Homo sapiens: one gene and its partners. The protein of the gene in region 3 interacts with the protein of the main gene of each other region in a pairwise test. Each region holds a gene or a part of one and is shown on either strand. Other genes may lie near its edges.

Region 1 (3,748 bases), on a different chromosome or scaffold from region 3:
GCTATCTTTATTATTTAGAAATAAAACAGGAATAACTAAAGAACCTACACCCCAAGGTGAGTTTAAATCTCTAAATACTGAATATTAATATGCCTAGATATTAAAAATTAATTTCTGAAACTCCTGTGTCCTTATGAATGAAATCAAAAAAAGAGAATCCAAATTCCTCTTACCTTACAATTCCATTTTCTAATCCCCCAGCGATTACATTGATAGATACTCCCTCAGGCTGGTTGGAGAAAGCCACGGAACAGATGATCTCCCTGCAGTGGACATGTCCAACGAGATCCCCGTTCACCGTCCAGAGTCTGAGGTCACTGCCTCCGCCAGCTAAAACACCCAAATCATCCGGCGGGTTACCAGAATGTGGCTGTCTCAGAGCCCACATTTGGCCCCAGAAGGGCAACCCTGAAGGGCAAGCTCATTTGTTTATTGATGAAGTTTGTAGACAACCCATGACTGAAGACTGTATAAATGAAATTACTACACAAGTTGCACAGATTTTTCTTTTTCATTTTCTTTTGAGACAGAGTCTAACTCTGTCGCCCAGGCTGGAGTGCAGTGGTGTGATCTTGGCTCACTGTAACTGCCTCCTGAATTCAAGAGATTCTTCTGCCTCAGCCTTCTAAGTTGCTGGGACAACAGGTGCACGCCACCACATCCGGCTAATTTTTATATTTTTAGTAGAAATGGGTTTTTGCCATGTTGGCTAGGCTAGTCTTGAACTCCTGACCTCAAGTGATCAGCCCACCTCGGCCTCCCAAAGTGCTGGGATTACAGGCGTGAGCCACTGCACCAGGCCAAGTTGCATAGATCTTTATGTATTAATCAAGAGACAATAACCAGCGAAAAAATAAAAATAAGAAGAAGCAATCTATGTGTACAGTAACAAGGTAAAATAATCATCTTTGTGTAATTGTAATATTTCAGCATATGAACCACCAAATATGAGTTATGATTGAAAATACTTGGAAAGCTAAACAGTCTCCAAAAAGTGAAGGAAATATTCTGTGAAACCATCTATAAGAAGTGACTTGGCCAGGCGTGGTGCCTCATGCCTGTAATCCCAGCACTTTTGGAGGCCGAGGCGGGTGGATCACCTGAAGTCAGGAGTTCGAGACCAGCCTAGTTAACATGGTGAAACCCCATCTCTACTAAAAATACAAAAAAATTAGCCAGGGGTGGTGGCGGGCGCCTGTAGTTCCAGCTACTAGGGAGGCTGAGGCAGAAGAATCACTTGAACCCAGGAGGTGGAGGTTGCAGTGAGCCGAGATAGTGCCACTGCACTCCAGCCTGGGCGACAGAGCAGAGACTCTATCTCAAAAAAAAAAAAAAAAAAAGTGACTTATGTGACTTTTGAAGAAAAAAAAAGGTGTAGTAAAAATTACCTGAGTTAAAACTTAATTCTTAAAAAAAGAAGAAAAAGTATTCTTCAGAACATCTAAGATTAAATCTTATAAAGCAATACCTTATTAATTTTTTCTTTTCAAAGATTACAGAGTAACCAAAAGTTTTTCTTTTAGTTTTCTGGGGTTGGGGGAAGCATAATTGCCTGCCATGCTTTATAAACAGGATGGTTTGGGGGCTGATGATGATATGTCCAGCCTTCTCTGGGGAAATACTCTCATACTGATAAAGCGGTTAGGAGGCACGATAAAGTTTGATGACATAGTCTCACTACATTTAATTTTATCTTTTCATTACATATAAGTAGAGGCTTTGCTTCTGTCTTTTATTAAGACAATGAAAATATTTCATATTTTATAGCAAAGAAACATATAAACAATGCTTCTTTATTTAAAAATATGCCAAAGACCGCCAAATACCACAGATCAAAATGCCCAGTGTGTTGCAGCATTATTCACAATAGCCAAGAAGAGGAAACAACCTAAATGTCTATCAACAGATGCATAAACAAAATGCAGTATGTACATACACACACACACACACACACACACACACACACACACACACACACAATTTTCTTTAGCCGTAAAAAGGAATGAAGCATGCGAAAACATGGATGAACCCTGAAAACATCATGCTAAGTGAAATAAGCCAGACACAAACAGACAGGTACTGTATGATTCCACTTACATAAAATATCTACAATGGGCAAATTCAGAGAGATAGAAAGTAAAATAGAGGTTACCAGGGGCTGGAAGCTGAGGGAGGAGGAATGGGGAAATAGTGGTGATGGCTGCACAACACTGTTAATATAATTAATGCCACTGAACTGAATACTTAAAAAATGGCTGGAATGGCAAATTTTATTTAAATATACATTGAGACACACATGCACACACACACACACATACACACACACACACACACACACACACACATGCCCAATGTTCTACTAAGTTTTCCCATTGTAGAACATTGATTATATCTAAATATAGCATCAAGATGCAGGAGACTCAGTATGCTAAAGAAATAGAATTATAGACAATATTTTCCATGAGTAGGCTACATTTCAACCTTTCTTTTGAATTAAATGTTGGCTAAAATATTTTTTTAAAAGATAAAATAATTAGATAAGTACTAGTAAGGCTAGAAGGCTCATTGAAGTCACTGGAAACATAGCCATAAAAGATATTGAGGTAGGGGTTTCTCGCTGTAACCCATAGCTACCACTACTGCATGGCTTAATCCTTCAAAATAAAAAATCTAAATGTGGGCCTGGACTCTCAAGTATGGCCTGGAACTTAGTAGCCAAAGAATTATCCTAGCAGCTCACTCAGTAACTTGGGCTACCACAAAACCAAATAACTACTCATCTGCCTACTTCTGTAAGTATCAAAATTTGACAGTTACCCAATACCAGATTGCTCGAATGTATAATTTAACACATCAACTAAAAGTCAGAAACCTAGGCATTCCTAAAAAGCATCTCTATCCTTCGTATACACAGTCATGAAAATCAAAATAAATTAAAGAACCACCCCACTGTGAATCTTAGAATATTTTACTAACTCTATCTTGCCATTGGCAACAGAGGACCAGGCTATGGATGTCTCACCTTAGTTCAAAGGCATATATTTTGATCCAGTGATAGAATGGTAAACACACATACAACCCCCCCAGAAATCACTGATTACATTTTCACAGTTTAATACATTTCACATCTTATCACTATAAAAACCATATCCCATCATAAGAACTGAGAAATTATGATCAGGAGGAATGAGCTTGACAATGTAACTTTTGAGAAGATGTTACACATACAGCACAGGCACATAATATAGTTGTCCCTAGGTATCTGAGAGGGATTGGTTCCAGGACCCCTGAGGATATCAAAATCCATGGATGCTCAAGTCCTTGATATAAAATGGTGTAGTATTTGCATATAACCTCTGCACATCCTCCTGTATTCTTTTTTTTTTTTCTTTTGAGATGGAGTCTCGCTCTGTTGCCCAGACTGGAGTGCAGCGGTACAATCTCAGCTCACTGCAACCTCCGCTTCCTTCAAGCGATTCTCCTGCCTCAGCCTCCTGGGTAGCTGGGACTACAGGCGAGTGCCACCATGTCTGGCTAAATTTTTGAATTTTTAGTAGAGATGGGGTTTCACTGTGTTAGCCAGGATGGTTTTGATCTCCTGATCTCGTGATCTACCCACCTCGGCCTCCCAAAGTGCAGGGATTACAGGCATAGCCACCGTGCCTGGCCTCCTCCTGTATTCTTTAAATCACCTCTAGATTATTTATAATACCAAATACAATATAAGTGCTATATAAATAGTTGTTAT
Region 2 (3,748 bases), 230 kb from region 3:
CCACACTGGTCCTCTCGCCCATCCACCTGACCTGACTCTGGCAGGGCCTTTGCAGGAGCCATTCCTCCACCCGAACCCCTCCTATTAAAACGTGTTCCTAGCCGGTTCAGCCCCAGCCTGTAGGGACCAGCCCCACATGGTCGGTGGGTCTCTCCCCGTGTGCCGCAACGAGAGAGTGTAGAAATAAAGACACAAGACAAAGAGATAAAAGACAGCTGGGCCCGGGGGACCACTACCACCAAAGCGCGGAGACCGGTAGTGGCCCCGAATGTCTGGCTGCGCTGTTATTTATTGGATACAAAGCAAAAGGGGCAGGGTAAAGAGTGTGAGTCATCTCCAATGATAGGCAAGGTCACGTGGGTCACGTGTCCACTGGACAGGGGGCCCTTCCCTGCCTGGCAGCCGAGGCAGAGAGGGAGAGGAGACAGAGAGAAAGATAGCTTATGCCATTATTTCTGCATATCAGAGACTTTTAGTACTTTCACTAATTGACTACTGCTAGCTAGAAGGCAGAGCCAGGTGTACAGGATGACTAGGCATAATAAAGGCAGACTAGGAGCGGGACCACTGAAGCACAGCATCACAGGGAGATGGTTAGGCCTCCGGATAACTGCAGGCAAGCCTGACTCATGTCAGGCCCTCCACAAGAGGTGGAGGAGCGGAGTCTTCTCTAAACTCCCCCGGGGAAAAGGAGCCTCCCTTTCCCGGTCTGCTAAGTAGCAGGTGTTGTTCCTTGACACTTTTCACTACCGCTAGACCACGGCCCACCTGGCAACGGGCATCTTCCCAGACGCTGGCGTCACCGCTAGACCAAGGAGCCCTTCTGGTGGCCCTGTCTGGGCATAACAGAAGGCTCGCACTCTTGTCTTCTGGTCACCCCTCACTGTGTCCCCTTAGCTCCTATCTCTGTATGGCCTGGTTTTTCCTAGGTTATGATTATAGAGTGAGGATTATTATAATACTGGAATAAAGAGTAATTGCTACCAACTAATGATTATTGATATTCATATATAATCATATCTAAGATCTATATCTGGTATAACTATTCTTGTTTTATATTTTATTATACTGGAACAGCTCGTGTCCTCGGTCTCTTGCCTCAGCGCCTGGGTGGCTTGCCGCCCACACCAGCCACCAGAAGCTCCCCAGCCCCGGCCCAGCAGCTGGTCTGGGGAGCGGGGAGAGGGCAGTCTGGGCTCGCGGTTCCGGCTGGGGGCTGGGCACCCCGGGGCGACCACGGCAGGCCCAGATGGGGACTCCGGTTCCAACTCTCCTGGCCCAGAGGCTCTAGGGTGGTCTTGTCTGTCTCACTCCGGGGGCAGAGAGGACGCAGACAGACCCCAACACCACTGCTCGGCCGCGATGGTGCCTTAGACCCAGGTCCTGTGGGCTCTGGCCCGAGACCCCTCCCTCTGGGAAGGCCGGTGACCGGGACAGTCCACCTCGCAGGCGCGCCGGCGCGGAGCCCGGACCTCAGCCCGCAATGACTCAGCAAGGGCCGGTGGGATTCTACATGGTCCTGCGATATCCAGGCGACGGAGTCTCGCCTCTAAAGTGGCCCGGGGAGCAGGAAGGTATGAGCCTCAGCTGAGCGAAACCCTCCTTGCAGCCACCACGGAGGGACGGGGCGCGTCTCCTTCTGAATGACGCAAGGGGCGGGGCGCGTGGTGGGGCGGGGAAGGCGCGAGGCGCGCCGCGATCGGGGACTGTCCTAAGACGGGCGGGGCGCGCTGCGCTAGGGACTGTCATAAAAGGGGCGGGACGCGCCGCGGTCGGGATGACGTGAGCTGGGGGCGCTCGTCGCTGCAGCCGGCGGCTAGCGGGCGTCCGCGCCATGGAGCGCTACGCGGGCGCCTTGGAGGAGGTGGCGGACGGTGCCCGGCAGCAGGAGCGACACTACCAGCTGCTGTCGGCGTTACAGAGCCTGGTGAAGGAGTTGCCCAGGTACGCGGGCGGGGCGGGCGGCGGCCTGCCGAGGCCGCATCGTGTCCCGCCGGGGCTCACCGCGCTCCTCTACCCCGCAGCTCATTCCAGCAGCGCTTGTCCTACACCACGCTGAGCGACCTGGCCCTGGCGCTTCTCGACGGCACCGTGTTCGAAATCGTGCAGGGGCTACTGGAGATCCAGCACCTCACCGAAAAGAGCCTGTACAACCAGCGCCTGCGCCTACAGAACGAGCATCGAGGTGCGCGGGGGCAGCGGGAGGAGGTGCCGCCTCCTCGGGGTCGGCGCCTCCCGGCAGCTCTTGGTATCTGTGCAGCTCGGCTCCTTCCTTGGGAGTGTTCGGAAGAGGTCCCTAAGATTAACAAAATCAAGGGCGCAGAGACTGAGACAGCGCCTTTTTGGTGACCAATGTGTCCAACGAGTTTTGTTTTCAGTTGCGCAGCACCCACCTTCTTAGCAGAAACTCCCTGTTCGGGCTTCCCTGTGCCCCACCCCCTTCCAGGCCTGATGGCCCTAGGCCTCCGTGCTTGGTTGGCCGGCAGGCTGACTCTGGTGGTAGATCTGACTGCGTTGCCCTCCGGTAATTGGAGTTCTGTTGACAGGTGAGCAGCGCCCTTGGGTAGTTGGAGGTCTGTTGACAGCTGTGCGCGCCCTTCAGGGTCAGTTCCCTCTCAGGCCTGCAGGGCCTCATTCTAGTTGCACATCAAATTCCTAAGCACTGTCTCCTGTGGCGCCCTCCCAAACCAGAAGAGCTTCCCACTTGAGCCGCATGCTTCCTGGGCTTCGGAGCCCTTTCCTGCAAATTATATAGGGCAGGTCCCCCTGCACCATCAGATTTCCACCTTTGCTGTTTTATTTTTCCCAAACTTCTTATTTTAAAAGTTCAAACATTTGGAAAAACTGAAAAGACAGTGTAGTGCATACGCTTGTGCTCTCCACCGAAAGTTCAGTAGTTAACATTTTGCTCTAGTTCTTGACATCCCAAAATACATACATGTGACAGCATAGAATTCACCAAGAGTCTTCAGCATTCCTGGAGACCAGGATTTTCAACCCAGCCATGCTGACATTTGTGGCTGGGTAAGTCTTTATGGTGAGATGCTGTCTTGCGCATTGCAGGATGGCAGGGGTACCCTCCCTAGTCGTGAAAACCAAGAATGCCTCCAGACAACCTGGGTGGTGGGGTCAACCTTGGCCTTGGATTGGGAGCAAGTGCTCTAGAACAAGAGCGGTCTCCTACACAGCTGCAGAGGGTAGCCCCCTGAGAAATTAACTGTTCCAGGTGTCTCCTGACTTTCAGTGCATGGCCACATCATGGTACCTAACTTGTGGCAAATTGTTGCTTTATAAGTAAGGATCCAGTCCAAGTTCATGTACTACAATTGGTTACTTTGGTCTCTTTGCTTCTGGAACAGTCCCCAACATTTATTGTGGCATTGACTTTTTATAGAGTCTAATTCTATAATTAGAATGCCCTGCTCTGGATCTATCAGAGGAAATGCTTCCTCGTGCATTTAACCTGCTTCTCCACTCTCTGGGTTTACTGTACACTGGACTCCTGGTAGGAGCCTGATTAGAGGCAGGTTTAATGTGGCAAAAATTCCTCCTAGCGGGGCAAGGCCCCCTTCCCCAGAAGGCAGGCAGTGTCCATCTGCTCCAGGATTGGTGTGTTTCTATCAAGAATGGATGTTGGATTTTGGCAGTTTCCTTTTTGGCAGCTCTTGAGATGATCACGTGGTGAATCATTTTCTATTACTACAGTGAATTACAGTCACTTGAATTCCATCCTACTGGGTCGTGCTGT
Region 3 (3,748 bases):
GGAAACCCACCCTAGTGGGACAAAGACCAATGCAGGGTCAGTCCCCACAGCCAGGTGATGCAAACAGGCTGGACGTGGGCCGCCTCCCCTCCAGCTTGACTTGTGACAGGGAAACCAATGCAGCAGCAGCAGGGCCACCAGAGTCCTGTCCTGGGGACAGGCTTCCTTCCAGCGGGCGGGGAGTGGGTGCTCCTGCCAGACCAGCCTGGCTTCCACGGTTCCAGAGACCCTGTTCTCCCTCAGCCCAGTCCCCGCCCCCACTCCTTGGCTTTATGAGTTCATTGGCTGAAGTCACCCGGAGACAATGCTGAGTGTTCCACCCCTGAGTCGAAGCCCAGCCCAGGGCAGCCCAGCCAGACGCCTCCGGTAGTGTAAATGAGGACAATGCCTGCTGGCCCACATGACGGGGGGATGTAGACGGCAGCGGCGCCAGTCGCTCCTGGCACCATGGACGATGCCACAGTCCTAAGGAAGAAGGGTTACATCGTAGGCATCAATCTTGGCAAGGGTTCCTACGCAAAAGTCAAATCTGCCTACTCTGAGCGCCTCAAGTTCAATGTGGCTGTCAAGATCATCGACCGCAAGAAAACACCTACTGACTTTGTGGAGAGATTCCTTCCTCGGGAGATGGACATCCTGGCAACTGTCAACCACGGCTCCATCATCAAGACTTACGAGATCTTTGAGACCTCTGACGGACGGATCTACATCATCATGGAGCTTGGCGTCCAGGGCGACCTCCTCGAGTTCATCAAGTGCCAGGGAGCCCTGCATGAGGACGTGGCACGCAAGATGTTCCGACAGCTCTCCTCCGCCGTCAAGTACTGCCACGACCTGGACATCGTCCACCGGGACCTCAAGTGCGAGAACCTTCTCCTCGACAAGGACTTCAACATCAAGCTGTCTGACTTTGGCTTCTCCAAGCGCTGCCTGCGGGACAGCAATGGGCGCATCATCCTCAGCAAGACCTTCTGCGGGTCGGCAGCATATGCAGCCCCCGAGGTGCTGCAGAGCATCCCCTACCAGCCCAAGGTGTATGACATCTGGAGCCTGGGCGTGATCCTGTACATCATGGTCTGCGGCTCCATGCCCTATGACGACTCCGACATCAGGAAGATGCTGCGTATCCAGAAGGAGCACCGTGTGGACTTCCCGCGCTCCAAGAACCTGACCTGCGAGTGCAAGGACCTCATCTACCGCATGCTGCAGCCCGACGTCAGCCAGCGGCTCCACATCGATGAGATCCTCAGCCACTCGTGGCTGCAGCCCCCCAAGCCCAAAGCCACGTCTTCTGCCTCCTTCAAGAGGGAGGGGGAGGGCAAGTACCGCGCTGAGTGCAAACTGGACACCAAGACAGGCTTGAGGCCCGACCACCGGCCCGACCACAAGCTTGGAGCCAAAACCCAGCACCGGCTGCTGGTGGTGCCCGAGAACGAGAACAGGATGGAGGACAGGCTGGCCGAGACCTCCAGGGCCAAAGACCATCACATCTCCGGAGCTGAGGTGGGGAAAGCAAGCACCTAGCATGACAATGGCCCCGTTGTGTGTGGTGGGGGTCGGGGTTGGGGGGCATGGTGCAGTCGGCCTTCACGTAAACTAAGTAGGCAGGTAGGATCTGAAGAAGGCACAGGTGCAAGTAAAATTCGTCAATTAAACCACTATTTTGATTACGTTCCATTAGCTTTCTTCCACTTAGCAGCAAAGACGTTCCTTACTGACCACCAAATAAACCACAGGGTGTGTGCAAGCATCAAGAGTGCCCAGTGAGGAGTGTTTTTCTCTGGGACTCAGCCAACCGCCCCACCTGACACACAGTGGTCTCCGGCCTAGGAGCACAGGACAGATGCTCAGGTACAGGCAGAATCACAGTGTGGCCTGGCCTTGTGGGGGACAAGAGGGCCTCTGCCAGGGTCCACCCACCAGGCCCACACTGTCTCCCTCTGACCTGGCCTTGTCCCCAATGCCCTGGGGCTGGCCAGCTCCAGTGGTCCACGACTCCCCCTGGCTTCCTGCAGTTCAGCCCCCTCTGACCTACCCCCACTCCCTCACAATCCCTCGCTCAGCATCCTCCTCTTCCTCTATTTCCTGGAGTCATGTGAGATTTCTGTCCTCAGCCCTCAAGTTCCCTGCCCTGTCCTCCAGGGGCAGCCCCAGCTGAGACCTCCCCGTGTGCCCTCCCCACCCAGTGGCTCTTCAAGCTGCTCAGCAGCCCTTGATGATGGCACACTGGCCGGTCTTTTGTGCTTCCTGCTGGGTCACCCATTGCTCCCAAAGCATGCGGCCCACTTGCTGGCCAAGTGCTCCAGGTGGTCAGCACCTAGACATGCTCCTCCCCCCTCCCTCCCCACTTCCTGGGGGCTCCCTTGGGATAACGTGCACCCTTTCCTAGGGGATAAAGCACTGAAGGCCCCACGTCCCCCACCCCTTAAGAGTCCCAGCCTGATCTGTCCAGCAACCCACTGTTATCTGGGAGCTCCTGTTGGTGGAAGTGACCAGGTGAGGCCAGGGCCAGCAGCATAAGATGGGCAGTGCCTATAGCAGAGGGGTGAGTGGGATAGTCCCACCCCATGAGCTGGAAGCCAGGTGCTGGGAGAAGGTGATAGCTGAGATCACCTGATATGCAGCCCCCACACAGTCCTATAACCAGCGCACCTCACAGCCGGCAAGCCCAGAGTGGAGGCTGCAGACCTGGGCCCAGAACCGCAGGGGAACCTAAGGGTACAACTTCCAAGGGCTCCGTTTCTCCTTCATATCCCCCCAGAGAAGCAGAAAGCACTGCAGGATGTGAGCTCAACTCAGAACACAGGTTCCGAGTGCCGCAGAAAGCAACGCCAGTCACCCGGTGCTCCCACAGCCGCCCCACCTGCAGCTTCCTCACCTGGGGGGCCCCTCGCTTCAAGCCCCGCAGTCCTGAGACGTGATGCAGGCCCCAGGGCAAGGCTAGGGCTCGTGTGGGGAGCAAGATGGAGAGGCAACCCCCCAGACTGTACCTAGGTGTTCTTTAATGACAGTTCAAGGGGCCAATTAAACAGCAAACAGCTTGGCAAGGCCCTGGGGTGTGGTGTGGGCACGAGTGCCTTGTGCCAGTCTGGCCCCAGCACAGCCCCTTTCTCCAGTGACTCCTGGTATGGTCAACAGCTTCTGGCCCAGGCCTGGGCCCCGAGAAGGCTGGAGTCCTCTGCTGGGTGTACAGCTGCCCTGCAGGCTCTGTGAAGCGTCTATGAGCCCAGCCCAGGCCTGGCTCTAAAAGAAGTCCGAAGCTTTGCGCCGGGCAGGGAGCTGCAGCAGGTTGTCCGTGATGGAGGCCGGGTCCTGTGTGAGAGGGGTGCGTGTGGCAGAGCCAGGCGCCGGTGTGCTTGTGGGGGTCTGCAGCCCACTGGCCGGGGTCTTGAGGTGGGTGGAGCGTGCTGGGGATGGTGTGTAGCTGGCCCGCAGGGCCCGGTCTGTGTACTTGCTGGCCGTCCTGCTCACAAGGCGCTGTAGGGCTGGCGACATGGCTGGGCTCAGGCCTTTGGGGGTGAGGCTGGGGTGGAGGAATGGGTGAGAGAGGCAGGGTTAGGTGGGCTGAGAGCTGCCGGCAGCAGGGCCTCCCTTGGCTCCCAGGAAGAGCCTGGGCAGAGACACAGTCACTCTGAGCTGAGGAGGATGGTACTGCCAGCATGGCAGCAAATGCGGGGGATCCCTGAGGTCAAACAGCAGCGCTCAGGTCAAACCTGAGGTCAAACAGCAGCACCGCCCTTGGCTGTGG

What was found.
Region 1: the proteins of ESS2 (region 3) and LYST interact in a two-hybrid assay, tested with the Homo sapiens proteins (one study listed by BioGRID).
Region 2: the proteins of ESS2 (region 3) and DGCR6 interact in binary tests that used the Homo sapiens proteins (3 or more experiments, as listed by UniProt).

The regions. Positions count from the first base shown.
Region 1 is NC_000001.11:235,664,292-235,668,039, forward strand, and holds part of LYST (lysosomal-trafficking regulator), read right to left. Parts: intron 331-3,748; coding exon 174-330; intron 1-173. UniProt on the Homo sapiens protein: Adapter protein that regulates and/or fission of intracellular vesicles such as lysosomes. Might regulate trafficking of effectors involved in exocytosis.
Region 2 is NC_000022.11:18,904,541-18,908,288, forward strand, and holds the start of DGCR6 (protein DGCR6), read left to right. Parts: upstream 1-1,779; 5' UTR 1,780-1,834; coding exon 1,835-1,944; intron 1,945-2,024; coding exon 2,025-2,185; intron 2,186-3,748. UniProt on the Homo sapiens protein: May play a role in neural crest cell migration into the third and fourth pharyngeal pouches.
Region 3 is NC_000022.11:19,130,953-19,134,700, forward strand, and holds part of ESS2 (splicing factor ESS-2 homolog), read right to left. Parts: intron 3,524-3,748; coding exon 3,244-3,523; 3' UTR 1,525-3,243; coding exon of another isoform or gene 448-1,524; 3' UTR 1-447. Other genes in the region: TSSK2 (testis-specific serine/threonine-protein kinase 2), read left to right, coding at 448-1,524. UniProt on the Homo sapiens protein: May be involved in pre-mRNA splicing.